Regions from separate parts of the Homo sapiens genome. Here all the other regions are linked to region 3. The links come from fine-mapping of genetic effects on gene expression. A gene starts in region 3. Each other region holds a variant in brackets. All regions are shown on one strand. Distances are between the middles of the regions.

Region 1 (2,500 bases), 46 kb after region 3:
TACTGAGAATATCAGATTTTATATTATGGTGAATATGGTGATGTCATTAGGGAATGAGAAAGAGAGACACTGTGCTATGTTTCTGTACCAACTGCCCTCAGATACTGTGTGTTTTAAGTTTTTGTATCTGCCTCCTCTTTTGCTATAAGGCTGATGCCTGTTATTCTTCCCTTATTATCAGCCTTTTCATTTTCTAACTTGTGACTTTTTCATAGGGTGTCGTCTTAGAAACCAGTTAACTAAGCTGGTTAGAATTGTATGTAATGTAGGTCAAGTAGGCTCGGAATCAGAAGGGCTTTTCATGTGCAGTATTTGTAAATGGACTTTGTAGCATCTTCTTCGTTTGCATGACTTAAAGGTCTTAGCACATTCTCAACTAAGGTTCAGATAAATGTTATTTCCAGGTAGCTGGGTTTTATTTGTATGTAAAGACTGCAGTATTGTCAATACATGAATGTATAGGCGCCCCCCCCCCCTTTTTTCTTTACTGATTGTTGTAAAGAATGTAAGAATGGGCCGGGCGCCGGTGGCTCATGCCTGTAATCCCAGCACTTTGGGAGGCGGAGGTGGGCGGATCACCTGAGGTCAGGAGTTCAAGACCAGCCTGGCCAGTGTGGTGAAACCTTGTCTTTACTAAAAATACAAAAATTGTCCAGGTGTGGTGGTGGTTGCCTGTAATCCCAGCTACTTGAGAGGCTGAGGCATGAGAATTGCTTGAACCCGGGAGGCAGAGGTTGCAGTGAGCTAAGATTGTGCCATTGCACTCCAGCCTGGGCAACAGGAGGGAAACTCCATCTCAAAAAAAAAAAAAAAAGTAAGAATGCCTAGCAGTTACTATTACAAGTGGGAAACTAGGAAACGATAGCGTGGAGTGACTGTAAGAACTTCTTGATAAGGGAGCAAAACTAGATTTTTATTTGGATTTGGAAGTTGTCATCTTTTAGCTTATTTTCACTCGGCCTACAAGGCCAATAAGCGATATGCCTGATGTGAACAGGCTACTTGAATATGTTTGTCTTTATTCATAATATTCTGAAACTACACAATAGAAATACTGATCTTTGGCAGTATCTTATTCACTAATATATTGCAGCGTCTTAAAGACTGTTCTTGTAGCCA[A/G]ATGGTTAATAATGGTTACATCCAGGATTAAATTGAATCTAGGAATGGAGGGGAAAGTCTCTTGCTCTTGAGTTGTCTCTATTGTTTGAATTATTACAATAATCTGTTGCTAAAAGTAAATTATTAAAATTAAAGAACAGAAACTGAAATGGCAAGGGGATAAAAGTGGAGTGATCTGCCTTCTAGATGCTTCGCTTGTGATTTGTATAATATTTACCTTTTATTAAGTTCCTCAGGCACTGAGCTAGGAACTTGACATGTTCTACCTGTAGTCTTTATAAATATTATTTATGGATGCGGAGTATTTATTTTCCTCATTTTAAAGTTAAAGAAACTTTAAGTTGCTCAGCATCATGCAACTAGTGACAGGTAGACCAGAATTTGAAGCGAGGTTGGTATGCCTGCCAAAGCTCCGTTTTTCTTTATTGGGCTGTACTGGATAAAATGCGTTCTGGTTGGGAAGGGGAACACGGGCTGTTGCCTGGTGATCCACATCACAAGGTCAGCTGAGCCAATGATGACTTTCCATTTACAAAGAAATGAACAAATTAAATAACATCTGAGTATGCATGTTTAACATTCTCTGTATTTATTAAAACACAACTAAAGCTAAATATCATTTTGATGAAGTTTATCTGCATTTTTTCTTTTTCTAGTCTGACTGTGGCTTTTCTCTTAGACTGTAACAGTTTTTGCAAAAGTTCCATCAGAAGATTTAATAAACTCTTCATGCATCTTTTGGAGAGTTCTAATCTATAAGGCTGAAAAGTTAAAAAGTAACGCATTGGATTTTGTTTAACCTGTTTAACCAATTTATTGGATGAGTAAACTCCTCCCTAATCCTCTCTCCCTACCACTGTAATATCTGTTCAGATCCCAAGTGTCCGTAGGACATATTTTAGAGCAAAGTTTGACTGACATTTTAGAAGAATGTTCGACCAAGAATTTTCAATTGGAAAGAAGTTGACGTGAGTCTGAAGTTGAACAGTCTTGGTGCTGGGGAGCTTCAGATCAGCCTAGCAAAAAGACTCTCAGAAGACCGTTTGTCTTGTGAAAGGGATTTTTAGCTACCTACGTAAAACTTCCTCTGGAAAGATCTGATTTGCACTCTGTGATAGAAAAGGCGTAGGTTTGGGTGTCAGAAAGACCTAAATTTGAATCTACAACCAAGCTATTAGGTGAGTGACCATGGAGGATAAAAGTGTCCTTAAGCCTTAATTTCTTTGTCTGTAAAATGAGAATAATGTCGTCTTAAAGGAGAGGCTTTTAGAAGTAGCTATGCAAAACAACTAGCAGAAGTTTGCATTTCATGGGTACTTAGAGCACATTGGCTTATTCAGCCCTTCATCCTGTTTGTCATCCTGACCCAAATGAGAGAGAA
Region 2 (2,855 bases), 48 kb before region 3:
TTATGCTACATCTACTCTTGTATGGACATACTATGTTTATTCATTATCAGATGATGGACATTGAGTGGTGTTCACTTTTTGGCTGACCCTTATATTGCCCATAAAATAGAATTTGGGGGACTTCAGGCATCATCCAATCCAGAAGCTTCTAAATTTGTTTTTAGCAGTGGCACTGTTCTTTAAAATAAATGTTCTCATTGCTGAAATTGGGTAATCAGTAATAAGGGTTCATTATGTTATTATCCCTACTTGTGTGTATATTAATTTTCCATAGTATTTTTAAAAGATTACATTGAAATTTAATATGTAAAGCAGATTGAATGTATGTAGTTTAAAACTGCAAAGTATTCTTCCAATATTTTGCATACTTGCAACGAATCATTTCCAAAGAATCTTGGCAGATGATCTCCAATTTCTTAAATACTTGCAATGACAAAGAGTACTCTAACTTTGAGGCAGTCACAGTTGGATAGCTCTGTCTGTGAGAAAATAATGTTTATATTGATCCAAAATATGCGCCTTATAACTTCGAGTGGGAATCAGACAATTCCTCCACCATGAAAGTATTTTTATCTTCTTTATTTTTATTTTATCTAGTGCCTTTTCAAAGAATGCCAAATAGCTGGCAGAGTTTGGTATTCTGTATCACACTAACATATGCTACACAGTCTGCTTGAGAGATGTTAAGGGCTACGTTCCCATCTTCTGGGTTAAAAAGATATGAGCAAAATATTTAAGCAAAATTAAGATACCTGCAGGCAAAATCTGACGAAGTGTTGCACATTGTGCTACATAATAGACTGAGATTTTTTTTTAATATCATGGTTCTCCCCAGTTTCACCTGCCTGTCAGCTCTACATCATTTGTTATTAATTTAACACCAGAGAACCTGGGAAAAGCTGCAAGCCAGTGAGCATACACAAATCAGGCACAGAGATGGCAAGTGCTCCTTGGAGATGCTTGTTCACAAACTTTAAGGGAATTTGAAAAATGCCCACCAATTTGCAGGATGCTTGATATGAAATCAAAGAAAGTAGAGAAACGCAAGTTACAACTGCCTGATTTGACTGCAGAAACTGACAGTAAGACAGGAGCAGCTAGGTCATCTGCAGAATTCCACGCAGCACTGTAGGAACACACCTC[T/C]CTCCTCCTGACTCCCTTGGCATCTTCCTCCTTAATAACAAGGGACCTATTCCCAGCATCAGCTGATTCTAAGACACACACATCTATGTGCATCTCAGCAGGATGAATTGGAGGAGGAAGGGCATCTAGTTTGCAGACTCATTTTTACAGCAGTACCCCTTCACTGAAAATTACTTTGGGCCGGCTGAGAGTGGTGGCTCATGCCTGTAATCCCACACTTTGGGAGCCTGAAGGGGGTTTGGGGGGGGCTGGATCACCTGAGGTCAGGAGTTCGAGATCAGCCTGGACAACATGGTGAAACCCCGTCTCTACTAAAAATGCAAAAATTAGCTGGGTGTGGTGGCATGGCCCTGTAATCCCAGCTACTCGGGAGGCTGAGGTGGAAGAATTGCTTGAACTTGGGAGGCAGAGGCTGCACTGAGCCGAGACTGTGACACTGCACTCCAGCCTGGGCCACAGAGTAAGACCCTGTCCCCAAAAAATAAAAAAATAAAAAAAGAACTACTTTGGACCCTACAGTGAAAATTTATATAAAGCATGTTTGTGCCCAGTTAGCCAAAGCCCAGTTTCAGATGAGTAGTCTTCATCCCAATGTTCAAATGCCATTTTAATCTCAAAAAAAGCCTGAAAGCAAAATTTTTCAATGTGAAAAAGACCCTCATCTACTAAAGTTCCTCATAAAAGTCCATCTACTTTCATCAGTATATGTATTATATATGCTAGTGCATTTATATAAGACAAATAATGTTGACCATATATATCCACATTCGCTGAAAGCCAAGGATTAAACTTAAAAATTGGCACTGATCATAATGTTGCAGCAACTGACTAAATGCTCACCAGACCACTTCCCTCTTCTTCCCATATCCATCAGGTTTCCTGCAGGAAACAGAATCTAACTCTGATGTTTCAAGAGGCTCTAAAGAAAGGACTAGATATAGAAGCATGGAAAGGATTAAGAAAATCAATCCGGGAAGTTGAGGTGCCCAGGGACTAGCGAGAATAGAAAGCCATTACCACTTCTAGGTTACCAACTGCTCTCAGATAACACAGCCTGTTTTCTGGTCATTCCACCAATAGGGTACAGACTTCCTCCCAATCAATAGATCAGATATGGAGACTAATGACCCTCCTTCATGCACCAAGAGGGTAAGAAAGAAAGTCTATTACTAACACACAGAGCACTTCTGGGGAAGGGCAGGTGCAAGCTGTCATGAAGCTGTGGGGTTCAAACATCAAGAGGTCAGGAGCTTGGGGTGGGGAGTTCCTTACATGAAGTCCCAGATGTATGATGGTGGGCAGGGCAAGGGTGGATGGAGGCCTAAATGCTGTGAACAGTCAAACATCACAAACGGAGTCAGACTCTACTGCACAGCCAAATGCAGGAAGGGAGAAAGGCAATAAATACTCCAAACTCATGCTCTCCAATCTCTTAACTGTGCCTCTCACACTGAACCTATCTGGAAGCCAGAAGGTAGGAGACTCTGGGTAATGTCATCCACAGACTCAGTCTTCTGTGTCAAAGAGCAGGGCCAAGGAGAATGGGAATAAAACTGGGGCACAGGTGCAGAATAACAAGCAGACTGACGGATCAGATCACTTCACTCAGCCTCCCTTTAGCCAGGTGTGTCTTCCTGACTGAGTTTCAGCCAATGAGATCTGGACAGAAATGATGTGCAACATTTTCAGACCTAGCCCATAATACCTAGTGT
Region 3 (2,833 bases):
CCAAATCTCCCTTCCCCACTCTCTCTTCACCCACCACCTATGCTTAAACACATACACAGAGACACAGAGGCAGTTGTTTCTGCCACATACAAGTCAGGCAGTCATTTAACCTCTCTGTGCCTCAGCCTCCTCGTCTGTAAATGAGGACATTAATAATAACTACTTCAAAGGCCGGCCATGAGGATTAAATGAATGCAAATTTGTAGACCACTTACAGTATTACCTGGCATGTAGCAAGTGCCATGTAAGTGTTTGTTAAACTGCAGTGCTATCCGAAGTTAGCACAGACTTCAGAGGTCAAAGCATGGTCCTCCTCAAGACTCCCCTTCAGACACCTGCCACAAGCTTTGGGGTTCCCAGGCCACCTGCACTTCTGACCAGCTGTCTCTGTCATATGCCCAGGGCCTGAGCACTGTCTGCTAGGGTGCCTCAGTTCTCACCCACGCAGCTTCTCTCTACACATGATGTTTCATTGCTATTCGCTTTACTCCCTCAGGTTTCACAGAATGACTCATAGAACTCAAGAAAGTGCTTTCCTTGCTATTACAGTTTTATTATAAAGGACACATATCAGGACCAGCCAAATGAAGAGATGTATAGGGCGAGATGTGGGAGATTTCCCAAATAGAAGCTTACGTGTCCTCAGGAACGCTTCCCCCTCCTGACACTTTGATGAATGATTATCGACCAGTAAGCTCACCTGAGCTTCCACATCCAGAGTACTCACTGGGGTTCCATTATGTAGGCATAGTTGGTTAAATCACTGGCCACATGGCTGAACTCAGTCTCCAGCCCCAATCTGCTCCCCAGAGGTGGGCCTGCTTATGTGACTCAAAGCCTAAGCCCTCATGGTTGGCCGGCCCTTCTGGTGTGGCCAGCCTCCATTCTGAAATCATCTTGGGCCCTCCATGAGCCATCTCATTAGCATAAACTCAGGTGTATTTCCAGAGGCCCACCATGAATAACAAAGACACTTCTATCACTTGGGAAATTCTAAGGATTGAGGGTACCTCCCAGGAACCAGAGTCAAAGTCCAGTCAAATTCTTTATTATACAACGTGAGTTTACTGACTTGAACAGAAAGAGGGAGCAAGAGAAGCATTCTAGGAAACAGGTGTCTAAAAAGAAAGGCAGGAATAGTCAGCCACACTCATGGCATAGTAGGGAAACAGCCCCCAGCTAATTGGCTTTGCTATACAGTAGTCCCCCCTTATCTGAGGTTTCACTTTCTGTGGTTTCATTACCCGCAGGACGGTACAATAAGATATTTTGGGAGAGAGACTACATTCACATAACTTTTATTAAATTGTTCTAATTGTTCATCTCTTACTGTGCCTAATTTATAAACTTTATCATATGTATATACAGGAAAAAACATAGTATATACATGGTTCAGTACTATATGCAGTTTCAGGAATCTACTGGGGGTCTTGGAATGTATTCTCAGCAGATATGGGAGGACAACTGTACTGGAATGCACCAGCTTTGAGCCAAATAACCAGGGCTCTGAGTTTAGCTCCAAAGTTCAAGCACCTTCCTATTCTAGCAGCATCCGCCCTGATCCAGCATGGCGGCAAGAGCTTCTGCCAGTTCACAGCCTGACTACACGGCAGGCGCCTTTCCGGAACCGCCCGCTGGGTAGATTAAATTTCTCCGGCGCCCTGTAATGACACACACACAAAAAAAACCCGGGCGCGCCTTGTAAGAGGGCGGCCGGGTTTGCGCAGGCGCAGCGTGGCCGCGGGTGGGCGGAACTGGTCGGGATGAGTGGCGGAGGGACAGAGACCCCTGTGGGTTGTGAGGCCGCCCCGGGCGGTGGCAGCAAGAAGAGGGACTCCCTGGGGACTGCGGGCTCAGCGCACCTCATTATCAAGGGTACGGAGTGTCAGGGCTATAGTTCCTGGTGGATCCCAGCACAGCCTCATCTCCCAGGCGGCGCCCTCTGACCCGGGCCGACCCCCGGGTCCCGGGCTGGCGCGCGTGCGTTTGTGCGGGTGGGGGAGTCGTGGTCGGTCCCCGCCTTTTTCCCCGCGCCAAATGCGTCCCACCACAACCAACCAGCCCAACTCTTCGTGTTTCCCCGCTTTCCTCTGTCGCAGCCTGAGCCATCAGGCCCGCCCCCGTCCATTCCGCAAGCTCAGGACCCCTGGGCGCAGAGCCTTTGGGCAGCCTCGCCACCGACGTGTAGTGGAAAGGGCATTGGACCTGGGAGGCGGGAGGCAGTCGCTTAGGAGTTGAGTGACTTCGGGTCACTGGCTTTACTCACTCTCCTACCCGATCTGTTCCTGGTCGTGCGAGGAGTAAGTGAGATACACTTACGAAGGCGCTCTATAGCACTGTAAAGAACCATTCACGTTCAGAAATGTCCATGTGTTCTGTGTGCTTTGAGCTGGGAGAAGGTTACAACCTAGATTCTCACAGAATCTGCTTTAGGTTTGACTCCTAAAGCTCACAACGCTGTTTGCTGCGTGAAAGTCTTTGACAGTTGAGTTGTAGTGCTTTATATATACCAGATATAAAGTGCTTATATACAGTGCTTGTATTATTTTTTCTACTTGACATGCTTAAGAAGATATGTACTAATAAAATTCATTAAAATAGAGAATTGAAACCTGCCCATCGTATGTCTGCAAAAATGAAAAATTTGGGGAACATTGCCAGTGAATGAATATGAATAATACATTGTCTTAGATTTAATTTCTCAAGGAATTTTGAGACTTACATTTTAAACTACATAGTTGTAACTAAGAAGAATAATAAACTGACTCACCAAAAGACTTAAATTCAGACCTTTTCTTAATGACTTTTTCAGACTTATGAAAAAGAGACTTAC

What was found.
Region 1: its variant is fine-mapped to the expression of BLOC1S5 in whole blood (GTEx, PIP above 0.99).
Region 2: its variant is fine-mapped to the expression of BLOC1S5 in whole blood (INTERVAL, PIP above 0.99).

The regions. Positions count from the first base shown.
Region 1 is chr6:8,017,584-8,020,083 of GRCh38, reverse strand. The region is part of intron 4 of BLOC1S5 (biogenesis of lysosomal organelles complex 1 subunit 5); the gene reads left to right. The region is part of intron 4 of BLOC1S5-TXNDC5 (BLOC1S5-TXNDC5 readthrough (NMD candidate)); the gene reads left to right. All of the region lies in intron 6 of EEF1E1-BLOC1S5 (EEF1E1-BLOC1S5 readthrough (NMD candidate)), which reads left to right. Among named protein-coding and RNA genes, the nearest start is that of BLOC1S5, 46 kb to the left of the region's middle. The variant A/G (reference allele first, on the strand shown) is at 1,120.
Region 2 is chr6:8,111,026-8,113,880 of GRCh38, reverse strand. No RefSeq gene overlaps it. Among named protein-coding and RNA genes, the nearest start is that of EEF1E1-BLOC1S5, 9.9 kb to the right of the region's middle. The variant T/C (reference allele first, on the strand shown) is at 1,144.
Region 3 is chr6:8,063,307-8,066,139 of GRCh38, reverse strand. It overlaps BLOC1S5 (biogenesis of lysosomal organelles complex 1 subunit 5), which reads left to right and starts at 1,751. Exons shown (of 5, transcript NM_201280.3): 1 at 1,751-1,875. The coding sequence starts at 1,764. BLOC1S5-TXNDC5 (BLOC1S5-TXNDC5 readthrough (NMD candidate)) reads left to right here and starts at 1,726. Exons shown (of 13, transcript NR_037616.1): 1 at 1,726-1,875. The region is part of intron 3 of EEF1E1-BLOC1S5 (EEF1E1-BLOC1S5 readthrough (NMD candidate)); the gene reads left to right. RefSeq lists enhancers at 168-317, 328-427, 2,118-2,307, 1,917-2,543.